2 separate regions of the Homo sapiens genome follow, and region 1 is linked to region 2. The links come from fine-mapping of genetic effects on gene expression. A gene starts in region 2. The other region holds a variant in brackets. All regions are shown on one strand. Distances are from middle to middle.

The links.
Region 1: its variant is fine-mapped to the expression of BDH2 in minor salivary gland (GTEx, PIP 0.94).

Annotation. Positions count from the first base shown.
Region 1 is chr4:103,215,219-103,223,553 of GRCh38, reverse strand. No RefSeq gene overlaps it. Among named protein-coding and RNA genes, the nearest start is that of CENPE, 21 kb to the right of the region's middle. The variant G/T (reference allele first, on the strand shown) is at 3,863.
Region 2 is chr4:103,095,477-103,103,811 of GRCh38, reverse strand. BDH2 (3-hydroxybutyrate dehydrogenase 2) reads left to right here and starts at 3,978. Exons shown (of 10, transcript NM_020139.4): 1 at 3,978-4,029; 2 at 7,538-7,629. The coding sequence starts at 7,558.

The DNA.
Region 1 (8,335 bases), 120 kb before region 2:
TTGTCTTCCAAGGTTTCTATATTTCTGGGTTTTACATTTAGGCCTTTGATCCATCTTGAGTTAATTTTTGTATATGGTGTAAGGAAGGGGTCCAGTTTCAATCTTCTGCATGTGGCTAGCCAGTTATCCCAGCACCATTTATTGAACAGAGATTCCTTTCCACACTGCTTGTTTCTGCTGACTTTGTCAAAGATCAGATGGTTGTAGGTGTTTGACCTTATTTTTGGATTCTCTATTCTGTTCTATAGCTCTATGTGTATGTTTTTGTACCAGTACCATGCTGTTTTGATTACTCTAGCCCTGTAGTATAGTTTGAAATCTGGTAGCATGAAGCATTCAGTTTTGCTCTTTTTGCTTAGGATTGTCTTGGCTATTTGGGCTCCTTTTTGGTTCCATATGAATTTTAAAATAATTTTTTCTAGTTCTATGAAGAATGTGTTTAAAAGTTTGGTACAATTAACATTGAATCTGTAAATTGGGTGGTATGGTCATTTTAATTATACTGATTCTTCTGATTTATGAACATGGAATGTTTTTTCATTTGTTTGTGTCATCTCTGATTTCTTTCAGAATTGTTTTGTACTTCTCATTGCAGACATCTTTCACCTTTCGGGATAGCTGTATTCCCAGGTTATTTATTCCTTTTGTGGCTATTGTGAATGGGATTGTGTTCCTGACTTGGCTCTTCACTTGGCTGCTGCTGATGTATAGGACTGTTAGTGATTTTGGTACATTGATTTTGTATCCTGAAACTTTGCTGAAGTTGTTTATTATCTTAATAAGCTTTTGGGCCAAGACTATTGGGTTTTCTAGGTATAAAATCATGTAGTCTGCAAACAATGGTAATTTGACTTCCTCTCTTCCTATATGGATGTCCTTTATTTCTTTCTCTTGCTGATTGTTCTGGCCAGGACTTCCAATACTATGTTAAATAGGAAAAGTAAGAGAGCATCCTTGTCTAGTGCAGGTTTTCAAAGGGAATGCTTCCAGCTTTTGCTCATTCACTATGATTTTGGCTGTGGGTTTGTCATAAATGGCTTTTATTATGTTGAGGTCTGTTCCTCCACTGCCTAATTTATTGAGGGTTTTTAACATGAAGAGATATTGAATTTTATAGAAAGCCTTTTCTGCATCTATTGAGATAATCATTTGATTTTTGTCTTTAGTTCTGTTTATGTGATGAACCACGTTTGGTGATTTGCATATGTTGAACCAACATTGCATCCCAGGGATAGAGCCTACTTGGACATGGTGAATTAGCTTTTTGATGTGCTTCTGCATTTGATTTGCCAGTATTTTTTTGACAAACAATATTTGTCAAGGATATTGGTCTGAAGTTTTATTTTTTGTTGTGTCTTTGACAGGTTTTGGTATCAGGATGATGCTGGCCTCATAGAATGAATTGAGGAGTCCCTCCCCTCAATTTTTTGGAATAATTTCAGTAGGAACGGTACCAGCTCTTCTTTGTACATCTGGTAGAATTTGGCTGTGAATTCATCTGGTCCTGGGTTTTTTATGGTTGGTAGCCTATTTATTACTGATTCAATTTGAATATCATCATTGGTCTGTTCAGGGTTTTAATTTCTTCTAGTTCAGTCTTGAGAGAGTGTATGTGCCCAGGAATTTATCCTTCTCCTCTGGGTTTTCTAGTTTGTGTGCATAAACGTGTTTGTAGCAGTCTCTGATGGTCATTTGTATTTATGTGGAGTCAGTGTTAATATTCCCTTTGTCATTTCCAATTGTGTTTATCTGGATCCTCTCTCTTTTCTTCTTTATTAGTCTTATTACAATAATAAGATAAATAGTGGCCTATTTATCTTTTTTCTTTTTTCCAAAAAACCAACTCCTGGATTTGTTGATCTTTTGAATGGTTTTCTGCTCAGTTTCCAATTTTGGTTATTTCTTGCCTTCAATTGGTTATTTCAGCTCCAATTTTGGTTATTTCTTGCCTTCTGCTAGCTTTGTAGTTGGTTTGCTCTTGCTTTGCTAGTTCTTTTCAATGTGATGTTAGGTTGTTAATTTGCTATCTTTCTTACTTTCTGTTGTGGGCATTTAGTGCAATAAATTTCCCTCTTAACATTACCTTAGCTGTGTCCTAGAGATTCTGGTATGTTGTATTGTGGGTCTTATTAGTTTCAAATAACTTTTTGATTTCTGTTTTAATTTCATGATTAACCCAAAAGTCATTCAGGAGCAGGTTATTCAATTTCCATGTAATTTTGTGGTTTTGAGTAATTTTCTTACTCTGGATTTCTAATCTTAATGTACTGCAGTCCAACTGAGTGGTTGTTATGATTTCAGTCCATTTGTATTTGCTGAGAATTCTTTTATGTCTGTTTATGTAGTTGATTTTAGTGTATGTGCCATGTAGCAATAAGAAGGTATATTCTGTTGTTTTGGGGTGGAGAGTTCTGTAGGTGTCTATCAGGTCCATTGATCCAGTGCTGAGTTTAGTTCTTGAAAATCTTCGTTAAATTTCTGCCTCAATGATTGGTCTAATACTGTCAGTGGAGTGCTGAAGTCTTCCGCTTTTATTGTGTGCAAGACTATGTCTTTTTGGAGGTCTCTAAGAACTTGCTGTATGAATCTTGGTGCTCCTGTGTTGGGAACACAGGATATATTTTTAGGATAGTTAGGTATTCTTGTTGAACTTAACTCTTTACCATTATATTAATATAATGCCCTTCTTTGTCAATGTTTATCTTTAATGGTTTAAAGTCTGTTTTGTCTAAAATCAGGATTGCAGCCCCTGCTTTTTTCAGACTTCCATTTGCTCAGTAGATTTTCCTTCATCCCTTTATTTTGAGCCTATGGGTGTAACTGCATGTGAGATGGATCTCTTGAAGATAGCATACTATCAGGTCTCGCTTTTTTATCCACATTGCTATTTTTTGCCTTTTAAATGGGGCATTTAGCCCATTTACATTCAAGGTTAGTATTAATATGTATAGATTTGATATTGTAATTGTGTTGTTAGCTGGTTATTATGCTGGTTTGTTTGTGTGGTTGCTTTATAGTGTCACTGGTCTGTGTACTTAAGTGTGTTTTTGTATTGGCTAGTAACAATACAAAACTCTATGGTAATGAACTCCCTCAGCACTTGCTCATCTGAAAAGGATCTTATTTCTCCTTCGCCGAGAAAGCTTAGTTTGGCTGAATATGACATTCTTGGTTGAACATTTTTTTCTTTAAGAATGTTGAATATAGGCCCCCAATCTCTTCTGTCTTGTAAGGTTTCCACTGAGAGGTCAACTGTTAGTCTGATGTGGTTTCCTTTGTAGGTGAACTGCCCTTTCTCTGTAGCTGCCTTTAACATTCTTTCACTTCAACTTTGAAAAATCTGATGATTATGTGTCTTGGGGATGACCTTCTGGTGTAGAATCCTGCAGGGGTTCTCTGTGTTTCCTGAATTTTATTTTTGGCCCCTTTAGTGAGGTTGGGGAAGTTTACATGGATGATATCCTGAAATATATTTTCCAAGTTGTTTGCTGTCTCATCATCCCTGTCAAGGATACCAGTGATTTGTAGATTTGGCCTCTTTATATAATCCCACATTTCTGAAAGTTTTTGTTCATTCCTCTTCATTCTTGTTTATTTTCATCTCACTATCTTACTTCAGAGAGCTAGTCTTCAAGTTCCAGGATCCTGTTCTCAGCTTCATCTATTCTGCTGTTAATACTTGTGATTGCATTATGAAATTATTGTAGTGTCTCTTTCAGCTCTATCAGACCAGTTAGATACTTTCTTATACTGGCTATTTCATCTGTCAGCACAGGTATCATTTTATGGTGATTCTTAGTTTCCTTGGATTGGCTTTTGCTGTTCTCCTGAATTTCAATGATCTTCATTCCTATCCATCTAT[G/T]TCTGCCATTTCAGCCAATGAGTTGGTTAAGAACCCTTCTTTGAGAACTAGTGCAGTCATTTGGAGGACATAAGACACTGGCCTTTTGAGTTACCAGAGTTCTTGTGTTGGTTCCTTCTCATCTCTGCATGTGGGTGTTCCTTTAACTGCAGTGAAGATTGAGTAAAATCAATAGACTTCTTGACTTCTTTTCTGGATGTTTTCACAGGACCAAGGCTTTGTGCAGGGTAATTATTTGTAGCTTCTTGTCTTTGGTTTCACAAAGTTGGTGAGATACTTTAGGTGTTGAAGTTTTGGGATGTGATCCAGTGGGTGGCACTTAGGCATAATGGTCAGTAAGAGTCTCTTGCTCAGTCTTGTGGCTCTCCTATATTTCCTCACAGCTGTAGCCATGCTGCCTCTCTATGCTCTGAAAGTGTGAGCTCCTCTCCCACTTCAGTGCTGGCTGTAGATCACAGCTTGGCATTCCCAGGCTGCCCAACACAGTTCTGGGGTAATCTCAAGGTTAATGTTTCCTCCCCAACTTGGAGGCAGCAGAGGACAGGACCTTCACAGTGGTTGTGATGAGGGTCTTTTACTTGTCTCCTGGGGGCTTTGCTCTAGAGAGATACAGGTCAGCTATCTCTCAGTGTAATCAGCCCAAGTTAGGGGTCTGTGCTGTGGACCCAAGCTGGGGGTTCCCTGCTTAGTGATGAGCAGTGGGGTGGGTGGGACTCATGCAAGATGAACTGGCCTCCTCTCCTTGGGTCAACTGCTGCTTGTTGAAGTATGGATAAGGTACTTAGGGCTTTTGCTCCTTTGTTAGTCCAAGGGTAGAAGGGGTAGTACCACTGCAGAGGCCATGGCAGGGGGACTTTGGGTTGCCTCTGAGGGCCCCACCTCCAAGAAATGCAGAGCTGCTGTTACTGGGAGTGTTCAGCCAGTGGGGTGGGACAGCAGCACTAGTGGTATGAGCTTAGAACTCTGTTGTTGGGGAGTAGGGGGTCAAGGGCTCACTGGGAGGAGATACTGGTCTCCCCATATGGTGGATGTGGTGTTCTGTAACCTGAGGTATAGTCCTCAGGCTCTTTGTCTCTTCCCCAGACCAAGGGCAGCAGGGATAGAACTGCTGCTTTGGCAGTGGCAGAATGGCTGTGGGATGCCTCTGGAAGCCTCTTCACAAGAAAACTCCAAGCCACTACTAGTGGGTATACTCCACCATGGGTGGGATGTTTCTGCAGTTATGAGGTGGAGGCCCTGACTGGTGAAGAGTGTAGGGGGAAGATTCCTAGGGCAGAGGGGCTGGACTCCTCTCCATATGGTGGCTGTGGTGTGCTGGAGGTACCAGGGAGTGAGTGACTAGGCCTTTATTCTTTCCCCAGCCTGTAGGCTATTAGGGCAGTACCACTGCAACTGCAGTGGCAGAGGGGCTGTGGGTTGACTTTAGGATTTTCTCCTTACAGAAATGCTGGGCTGCCTCTGATTGAAGTGGTCAGGCAATGGCAGGGTGGCTGTGGTGGTGTCTCAGGTCAAGCAGCTCTGCCCAGTGAAGAGAAGTAAGCACCAGGACATGTACGGAAAACAGTCTGGCCATTTTCCCATATGGCTGCTGCAGTATGCTGGGGTTCCGCTCCAGTCCCTAGTCACCTTGGATTTTCTATTATTACCTGAAGGTATCAACAGTGAAGTCTGCAAAGCAGCAAAGATGTCAGCCTGCCCCTTTCTCTGGAAGCTCCATCCCAGGGAGGTATGGATGGGTTTCCAGCCCAAACACACTGGCAGAGATGGCAGGAGACCCTGGTCAGGAGGTCCCACCCAGTGAGGAAGAACAGGATCAGGGACCTACTGCATAAAAGCAGCCTGGCCACTTTTTCATAGGGCAGCTGTGCTGTACTAGGGGTCTGCTTCAGCCCCCAGTCACTTTGAGCTCTCCAAAGCCTGAAGGCAACAATGGCTAAGGCTGCAAAACAGCAAAGATTGTGGCCTGCCCCTCCCTCTGGAAGCTCCATTCCAGGGAGGTTTGGAACTGATGTCTCCTGGAAAACACTGGTGGGGGTGGTTGCAGACCTCAGTCAATAGATTCTGGCCAGTGAAGAGAAATAGGATCCAAGCCAGTGGGTCTTGTCCTGCCAAGTGCTGTAGAAGCAGGGCCTGCAAACTGTCACTTCTCAGGCCCCTGGATTCATCCCTTTTCTTATGGGTATGTATAGGGGTCTAACCTTCTGATTTGCTGGACTTGCAACCACTTTTGCTTGGATGCCCAGGTATCTAAGTCTCCCCAGGTTCCATATGTACCTGAGCAGCTGCTCTGCCAAGACTTCACGTAGCTCTGTGTGTCAGACTGAAGTCCCTGGTGGAGAGGTTCACAAGGAGCTCTCTTGACCCAAGGGTTGCAAAGATCCATGGGAGAAGCATGGGTCCCTGGGGTCACTCACTCACTCACCACTTCCCTGAAAGAGGGAGGCTGCCCTGGCTCCCTGTCACTCTCAGGTGGGCAGTAATCCTGCCTTGCTTCTCTCTGTTCCCAATGGGTTTAGCTGTTTTCCTGATGAGTCCCAATGTGTGTACCTGGATGTTTCAATTGAAGGTGCTGTATTTACTTGCCCCTTCTATTTCTCTTTCTGAGAGCAGAGCACACTAGCTGCTTCTAGTTGGCAATCCTGGCCAGCCTCCCTCAATCTTCTTTTTAAGTTAGTAAAATTCATCAACATATTTTGCCACTTCCTGTGTTTATCATTTTTTTTAATTTCGTTCCTCCTCTCTTTACGGAATATGCTTTAGTTAAGTTCTCTTATTTCTATGTCTGTGAACGTCTATATTTTACCCTCACTCTTGTGATAGGTTAGCTAGATATAAAATTCTAGTCGACAGTAATTTTACCGCAGCAATTTGAAGATAATTAACAAATATCTTCTGGCACATACTATTAGTAGTGAGAAGTCTGCTCACATTCTCATTGTCAGGCCTTTTAGGTAATCTTTTCTCTTTTTCTTTCTGGAAGATTTTAAGACTTTTCTCTTTATTCTTCATGTTCTCTAGTTTCACAAATTTGTGACTAGGTATGGAGTTACCTTTAACGGTCCTACATGCTTTTTGGGGTACACTTTCAATCTAAGAAGTCACATCTTTCTCAAACTTTGAAAATTCCTCAGAAATGATCTCTTTGAATATTGCTTCTTTATTTCCTTTATTTGCATCTCCTGGAACTTGTAGGGTTTCATAGAGTGTCTATAAGTATGTATGTTGCAGTCTTTGCAGCTATCCTTCATTTCTTTTAATGAATCCTTCATATTTTTAAATCACTTTTTGTTTATCTCAGCTACATTCTGAGCCCATTTCTAAATATTATCTTCCAATTTACTAATTTTCTATTTGATTTTGACCTGTCTAGAGTTTATTCTATGTGCTAATAATATCTTTTTTTCTTTCTTTCTACTGATTTTTCATATTCCCGTATAATTTTCCATACATGACATTACTGCAGGACAGTTCCATGGGTGGTGTTGAACCAACCCAGTTCTCCCCCATTTCTTACTTGTAGTTCTGCAGAATTAACTAGAATGTGCTGGACATGCAACATCCTGAGATAAGGAGGAGGTGGCCAGAAGAGCACAGACTCTGTCCCTGTTGCCCCTAGAAACAGTATATCCTTCATCGCTTCAGCCAGCGTGTCTTATTGTTCCCACGGTGAAAAATTGAGGGTGGGCTGGTTTCCAGGGTCCCTCAGCTGTGGTACAAGGGACCCTGGAAAGCAGCCCACCCTGGGTTTTTTACCCTGGGAGCAATAAGGCACTCTCAGAGGAGACTCCATCTGCTCTGAGCAGATTTCCTGAGCCCCCGGGGACTGGCTCATCATAACTCGTAGGCTTCTGTTGTCCCTTTCTGCCCATCTATAAGTAACAAAACTATGCAATTTGTGTGTGAGAGAGTTTTTTTATCTCACAAGACTCAGGTACATAGTAAAAGTGCAGCCCAGGATTCTGAAGTGGTAAGCAGTGCACAGTGAACCTGCTTCACAAGCACCAGTTCCTCATTCTACATCACCATCACCATTTTCACTACATTTCCAGTATGTAGGACATCCATCAGTAGACATTATAGTTTGTTTTCCCAATCTAAAGATTTTTTACATTTTTAATTATTGTAGTTACATAGTAGGTGTATATATTTATGGGATAAGTGAGATGTTCTGATACAGGCATGCAATGTAAAATAAGTACATCAAGGAGAATGGGGTATCCATCCCCTCAAGCATTTATTCTTTGAGTTACAAACAATCTAATTATACTGTTTAAGTAATTTTAAAATGTACAATTAAGTAATTATTGACTATAGTCACCCTGTTATACTATCAAATAGAGGTATTATTCATTCTATCATTTTTTGTACCTGTTAACCATCCCTACCTCTTCCCCAGCCCCCTACTACTTTTTCCAGCCTTTGGTAACCAGCCTTCTACTCTCTATGTCCATGAGTTCAATTGTTTTGATTTTT
Region 2 (8,335 bases):
CAGGGCACGCCTATAAGCTCTTAGGTTACTTATGTGGAGCTTGAGCCATGAATTTGAATCCCTGAAGTCATCCTTTTTTTTTTTAAATAATTTTGCCCAACAATATTAGAAGCAACCAACCAACATTGGTATATTTCTTAGTTTTCCATAAATATTTGAAAGTATTATAGGGCCGGGCACAGTGGCTCACACCTGTAATCCCAGCACTTAGGGAGGCTGAGGCAGGCGGATCACAAGGTCAAGAGTTTGAGACCAGCGTGGCCAACATGGTGAAACCCCGTCTCTACTAGAATACAAAAATTAGCCAGGCATGGTGGTGTGTGCCTGTAATCCCAGCTATTCGAGAGGCTGAGGCAGAAGAATCGCTTGAACCCAGGAGGCAGAGGTTGCAGTGAGCCGAGATCATGCCACTGCACTCCAGCCTGGGCGACAGAGCAAGACTCTGTCTCGGAAAAAAAAAAAAAAGTATTATATATAGAGTCACTTAAGTTCCTCACCTCTAAGAAGTGGTTGATTAGGAGTATCCAATGCAGACATTTTGCATACCTCTATGAACAGTTCATTTCTTGGACAATCAGTGCTCTCTGTACTATTAAAAGGAGAGCCAGGCTGGGCGCAGTGACTCATCCCTGTAATCTCAACACTTTGGGAAACTGAGGCAGGAGGAGCACTTGAGACCAGGAGTTTGAGACCAGCCTAGGCTACATACTGAGACCTCATCTCTACCAAAAAAAAACAATTTGGAGGGCTGAGGCAGGAGGATGGCCTGAGCCCAGGTATTCAAGGCTACAGTCAGCTATGATGGTGCCACTGCACTCCAACCTGTTCAAGAGTGTGACCCCATCTCAAAGAGTAGAGCCTTTAGCATTTTCAAATCTAATCAGACTAAGAGCCAATTCCAGGAACCCCAAAACCAACTCAGGAAACTCATCCTTAAAATTTTGTTCCTCTAGAACCTCTCCTGTTACCAAAATCTGTCTTAGGATTTTCCAGAGAGACAGAACCAATAGAATATACACAGATGGTCACCAACTTGTCATGGTTCAACTTGAGATTTTTCAACTTTAGGGATGGTGTGAGAGCGATACGCATTCAGTGAAAACTTTACTTTGAATTCTGATCTCTTCATAAGATAGCAATACTCTACTGTGATCATGGGCAGTGGCGGCAAGACACAGCTCTCAGTCAGCCACGGGATCACGAGTAAACAACTGACACTGTTCAGTGTACTCTGTTCAATAAATCCCATGAGTCAGTCAACACCTTGTTATAAAACAGGCTTTGTATTAAATGATTTTATCCAACTGTAGGCTAACAAGTGTTCTGAGCACATTTAAGTAGGCTCGGCTAAGCTCTATGTTCAGTGAATTAGGTATATTAAATACATTTTCAACTGACAATGTTTTCAATTTACAATGGGCTTATTGGGATGTAACCCCACTGAAGCTTGAGGAAAAAAAAAAAAATATATATATATATATATGCAGAGAGAGAGAGAGAGGATGTTTATTAGGGGAATTGGTTTACACAATTAGGGAGGCTGAGAAGTCCCACCATAGGCTGTCTGCAAGCTGGAGAGCCAGGGAAACTAGGAGCGTGGCTCAGTCCAAGTCTGAAGGCCTGAGAATCTGGTCGGAGTTCAGGTATCCAAGGGCAGGAGAAGATGGATGTCCCAGTTCCGGAAGAGAGAGAATTCACCTTTTCTCTGCCTTTTTGTTTTATCTGGGCCCTCAGCCAATTGGATAGTGCCTGCCCACATTGGGTGAAGTAGATCCTTACCCAGTTCACTGATTCCAATGCCGATCTCTTCCAGAAACACTCAGAGATGTCCCAGAAATAATGCTTACCAGCTCTCTGGGGATCCGTAAATCCAGTCAAGTTGACACCTAAAATTAATTATCACAAACATTGTCTTGAGAGCCTGGCAGAATTATATTCAGGAAACTTATTAAGAAACTGCCATTCACTCAGCAAATATTTAATGAGCATCTACTATCTGCCAATTACTGTTTTAGGCACTGAAAGGCACTACCAATGTGGAACTCATATTGTAGATAAGAAAACAAGTAACTAATACTCTTTTAATACGAGCTAATCACAATGTAAAGGTGTAAAACATAGTCCCCACCCTTGAAGAAATTTAGTCTGCTGAGAATACTAATGGGTAAGCAAGTATTTGCAATACCATGTGACTTAGGCTGTTATCAAGTAAGCATTGTTGCTGAAGATTACAGAGGGATGCTGAAGAAAGCTACATCAAGAAGCATTGGAGTTGGCTTTGATTAGAGAACTCTCATAAAGTCTGTTCCAAAAGCCTCAAAAGTCAAAGGGCATTATTAGTAAAGCAGGAACAAAGCTAGATGTGATTACAGATTGTTAGAGCCAGCATTAGAAGTTGCTGAAACAATGAACAAGGAGGGACAATTTTACCATAGACCTCATATAGACACATGCAGAAACTAAGTCCAGTTTTTAAAAGAACATTAAAAAGCGCAACTTTTACCATCCATTATAATTAAATTTCTCCAACAATGTCTTCATCATAAGAATCACTAACATGTATTAAGCACCTGTGTGGCAAACATTGTGCTGATGGATTCACAGGCTTAGTCGTTCCTCCTCACCACATCCCTGAGGTAGGTGCTATTTTACCTTCATTTTACAGATGAGAAACATAAGAGGTTCAGAGATTTAAGTGATTTACTCACTTAGCTAGTGAGAGAGAGATATGGGACTTGCTCTAGTCTTACTGACGCCACAGTCTTTGTTCTTATCCCCTGTGACTGTTAGAAATCACTTAGCTCCATGTAACAAAAAACGTGAAAAACACTAAAGTTTATTGTCCTCACATAAGAAGTCCAGAGGAGTTGTTGCCTTGAGGCTGTCATCAGGGCCGCAGGCTCCTTCTCTTGCTGGTCCCTGTCGTTAATGTGTGCCTCTGGCCTCAGATGAACTCACTAAATGGCTGCTCTGTCCCACGGCATCCTATCTTCATTCCAGGCAAAAAGAAAGGGAGGAGCAAAAGCTAAAAGCCTTTCAGAAGGGCTTACTTTTCTATTTAAGAAGGAGGCCCTCCTCAGAAATTCCCACCTGCATTTCATTGGCAACATCTATGCTGCTTGGCCACCCCTAGCAGCAAACAAGGCTATGAAGTAGAGACTTTTGTTTTCCAGCTTTGACAAGTGAAAAAAGGGGAAAGTGAGTTGGATGGGTGCTGAGGAAACCAATTTATACAGTACATGTACAAGTAGCCTACACAATCACTCTGCTCACTGGCACTACAGATAAAGCACATGTTGCTATCCTAACCTAGAGGGCTCATGAGATCTAGTCCTTTCTTTTTGACCTTATATCTCTGTTCTCTTCAGCCAAACTGGGGTTTTTCGCTGTTAACATGTTCCCTTTTAAGCCTCCACCCTGTCATCCAAGTTTCACGTTCTCCCCAACCCCATTCCCAGTGTAGTAAAAGGCTCCTGGCATTCTGCCACTAAATGTGCATTAGTGTTAGAATATTCTGAGCATGAAAAAATAAAAATCACAACTGTATCTCAAACAAAAAGGATTTTTTTTTTTATTTCTCTCCCTTAAAACAATCCAGGCCAAGTGACAGGAAGGCTCCAGAATTTTCAGTGACCTGGGTTCCCTCTATTTTGTTGCTCTGCTATCTTCCACACGCAGTTTCCAGCTCAGCCAATCTCGTCTACCCTGGCACCGCATATAGTAGGCATAAACAAAACAGAGAAGTGGAGAGACTGAAGTGAAGGAAATGATTTCCGCATCCTAAGTAAGCTCTAAGGTGCTTTTCCACTTTTCACCTTCCACTTGGAATTCATAGTTCTACCTGAATTCCACTAGATGGCAGCACATACATTTATAAAGTGTATGGATGGAGCCACTAAACTCTGAAAGCAGGGAAACTACAAATCCCAGCATGCATTATTAAGCGCTTGACTTGCTTCCAGACAAAGGTTGTCTCAAGTTTGTTGCTCAAACCGAGTTCTGGAGAACGCCATCAGCTCGCTGCTTAAAGTAAGATTTCCTAATACTTTTGAAATGAAACTTTAGAACGGAAAGAGGGGAGGTTTAATTTTTAGATGTTGTTTTTTTCTGCACGTTGCCTGTTTCAAAATTAATCTGAGCAGTTAGATCAGTGTAAAGATGGGTTTTTAAAGAGCCTGAAACTCTGTGGTATGTATGTTTTATAAAGTAGCCCAAGAAAAAAGGATTCTTACGGTATCCTAAGTGAAGAGTTTTCTTCCTGGCTCTTGAAAACAATGGCTTCCTGAATATGCTGTTTGTGTCTCTGCTAATCAAAAATCAACATTTTGATTCTAACTTTTGGACTAAGGAAGCCAACATGTATGGTTTTCACATTGGATATATTGAGAGGTGCCTTGTTTTACCATTTCAGGCCGTGTTTGCTCTCATTTTCTCAAAGAAATCTGTTTTAGTTTGAGATTACAGTTTATCAAATGTTAAGGCTTTGACCCCAAAATCTGGTCCCAGAAAGACAGGAAGGCCAGCTAAGAGGAGGTTTTCAGAGTGCATAGAAAGGCTGCTCTGTGCTTCGGCATTTGTTCTGGAAGTGCTTCTTCGGTTGGCAAAGATTCCTAGCAAAACCTTTGACTGGAGGCTTTACAGGGCCATACACCCAATATCACTAATGACAGTGTTGTAAAATAGCTTTTGTGCACCATGCTTAGGATTCAAGGAGGATAAAGTATATCTTTCTAAAGTTATACTTTAGAAACTGTCATTCCATGTTGAAATGATAAACATTCCATGTTTATCTTTTGTGTAAGAAGTAAAAAAGCAAAAATTCATTGCATCAAAGTAGGTCAGGCACTGTTAAAGCCAAGCTTCCCCATCGCCTAAAAAATGTGGACAAACTCAGAGGAAGTCAGTGATTATAAGCTGATCCCTGGAGCCAGTTCTTACATAATTGTGTTAGTCTGCTCCTCCAAGAAGCAGACTCCAAGATAGAATTAAATATGCATGGATTTTATTAGGGGAAATGCTGTTGTGAGAGAGAATGAGGAGAGAACTAGGTAAGGCTGTGAGAGCCATCAGACCTCGATGCAAGTCCACCCGCGAGGGAGGAAAAGAAGGAAACCAGGTTGAGTGGAAGCATCCCAGACAGCTGTGCAGTCTAAGAGAACTTCAGCAAGGTAATAAGGAGCTTCTCTAGCCAGTCATCCGTTGGGGAGGAGGTCTATGTCTCCCAGAAATGAGTCTGCCTTAGTAAGCATGCATGCTCAGGCACTGGCTTGTAACGGCCCCGAGAAGGTGGCCTCAGCACAAACCCAGAGAGGCAGCAGCAGCTGCGCCTCATTGTCCATTACTTCCTGGGGTCAGCGGTCTGCGAGGCACAGGCTCCTGGTGCCACAGTGGGGATTTAGAGAGGCCCGCAGGGCTTTGAGTACCATGAGACAATGCCATGAGATCTTCCCTTGGACCTGCAACAAGAAGGCCTAGGTTTGAATTCATAGCTGCAAAACACTGGGCAAATAACATTTCTTTGAAATTAGCCACGTTGGTGATCAGGTCCTACCTATCTCATCTCTGAAACACTTCTCCAATCCACCTATCTCTCCATCCCTGCTATTTTCTCCAGCCCTGCTATTTCACCAGCGCCCCCACTAGATAACCCTAGCAGCCTCCTAATGGCACCCCATGCTCCTGCCCAGGTATGTTCTCCACAGCAGTCCTTCCAAAATACGAATCTGATCATTTCACACCCTTTCCATAAATCCTTCAGTGGCTGTTGCCTATAGGAGTAACTTGCCCTTCACCATGTGGACCTTGGACCAAGTGTGGAGGTTTGAAATGGAAGAGCATATTGGGTATAAAAAAAAAAAAGTTTGGCTAAAGAGAGAACTGAAATAAGTTCAAAGAGAAAGGACTAGGTAATATAAGCCCTTTAGGCAAGGCTATCAACCTGTACAAAATCAGGCAGATAATGGAACAGAGTGATTGTGTAGGCTAGTTTGCATGTACTGTAAGTTGGTTCATCAACACCATCCAACTCACTTTCTCCTATTCTTCACTTTATCAAAGCTGGAAACAAAAGTCTCAACTTCCAACCTCTTTGCAGCTAGGAGTGGCCAAGTAGCATAGATCTGGTGAATGAACTGCAGGTGGGAATTTCTGAGAAGGTTTCCTTCTTAAATAGAAAGGTGAGACCTCTCTGAAAGCCTTTTGGCTTTTGCTCCTCCCTTTCTTTTTGCCTGAAATGTGGATATGATGCCTTGGACAAAGCAGCCACTTTGTGAGTTCGTATGAGGTCAGAGGCACACATTAATGACAGAGCCCAGCAAGACTTGGAGCCTGTGTCCTTGAAGACAGCCTCATTTGATGGTCATTTGGCTCTTCTCCACCCCCAGCCTCACTACTAGCTCTTTCTCTCACTTTGTGATCTATAATCCAAGCACTGGTGAAATATCTCATGCACATGAGCCCCGGTGTCAGTGTTTCTCAATCATTTAGAAATTACTGATTATGCCTGTTAATGTGTTACTACTGCATGCTTAAACTTTATAAGAGGATCGGCAGCATTGTGGGCTGGACTGTTCACATAGCAAGAGTCTGGAAGTCTAAGTTTAGTTCTGGCTTTCCCATTGACTGGCTCTATGACATTGGGCATGTTTCAGCAGTTTCCTCATCTGTAAAATGGGAGTATTGGATGTGATTTGATTTTTCCATCCTTTTTTTTTTCGATGAATATCTGAGACCAACTATGAAATCTTTTCAAGAGAAAAAAAATCATAAGCAATTGATAGTGCAAACCTCAACAAAAGTTTATGGAAGAGAAATCAAGAAGCAGCCCTGAGTAGTAAGGACACAAATAATGTCATAGCAATGTGTGCAGGGGTCATGGAGAGAGTGATGGTGGTAGTGAGGAAACTCAGCACCAGAGGCTGTCCTCTCCAGGTACTGAAGGAAGGATAAGGTAGGTTAAAGTGCAATATCTGGGCTGGGCACAGTGGCTCAGGCCTGTAATCTCAGCACTTTGGAAGGCTGAGGCAGGTGGATTGCCTGAGGTCAGGAGTTTGAGACCAGTCTGGCCAACATGGTGAAAGCCCGTCTCTACAAAAAATACAGAAATTGGCTGGGCGTGGTGGCAGGCACCTGTAATCCCAGCTACTCAGGAGGCTGCGGCAGGAGAATTGCTTGAACCTAAAAGGCGGAGGTTGCAGTGAGCCGAGATCACTCCATTACACTCCAGCCTGGGTGACAAGAGTGAAACTCCATCTCATAAAAAAAAAAAAAAAAAAAAAAAATGGCCAATGTCTGTCACCAGTCATTACTTCAGTGGGTTATGGTAAATGTGTTTGATATACAAAGCTAGGTATGCAGAGTAAGCATTCTAGGAGAATTCAGATGATGGGACTACTTGCACAGAGGTGCTGTCTTCAAGTTCCTGAAGGAGCTCACTAAATTATTCTTAAAAGAGCACACTGAACTATTCATTCTAGATGTTACTGCCTGCTCAAGATCATGTTCTACAGTATAACCCATTAAACACACATGTCTTTAGATTAAACCACAGGTTCCATTATGGGTCGACTTGATGGGAAAGTCATCATCCTGACGGCCGCTGCTCAGGGGATTGGCCAAGCAGCTGCCTTAGTAAGTTATAAGTTACTATCTTTGTTGTTTGCCTACTAACTCTTGACATATTGAATTATGTGGACTGATGCCATGGTTGTTTACTTCTGCTCTGCTTTTTTATTTTTTTACTTTTGTGCTTCTGTTGTCTTAAGTTATAAAAATAAACAAATAAATAAATAGGTCCCTACTCCTGACCCCAGGCAGATGAAGGAATGAATACCTCATATTTAGTACATGACATCACTGATAACCATTGACTCTGAGAAACTTCTCTACTTCAGTTTCTCTGCATCATGATATATTCGCTACAGAGGGCAAACAGGGTTACACAGCTTTCTGAAATTGTGTCAGTTTAGATATATGACTCCAGAGTTATAAGACAGGTTACCTTGTTCTCCTGATTTATATCAATTTCTGTTACATTATGTACCCCACTTAAGCTAATATCGGCACCTTAAGTATAACAGTACCTTAAGTATAATGGCAGGGTATGGTTTGACATTTATGAAAGCACTAGCATACTCTTAGTAGGAAAAGTGTTGAAACAACCAATTTTTCTCTTATTATTTGGAGTTTAGTAACTCAAACTCAGAAATGATATATAGTCTCATTACAGAAGAGCAGTATTTTGAGAGTATTGAAAACAGCTGTCATTTTTTTAAGAACGTTATTTTGTTTGATATTACTTAAAGGGACTAAGTCAGATGACAAGCACAATGTATGT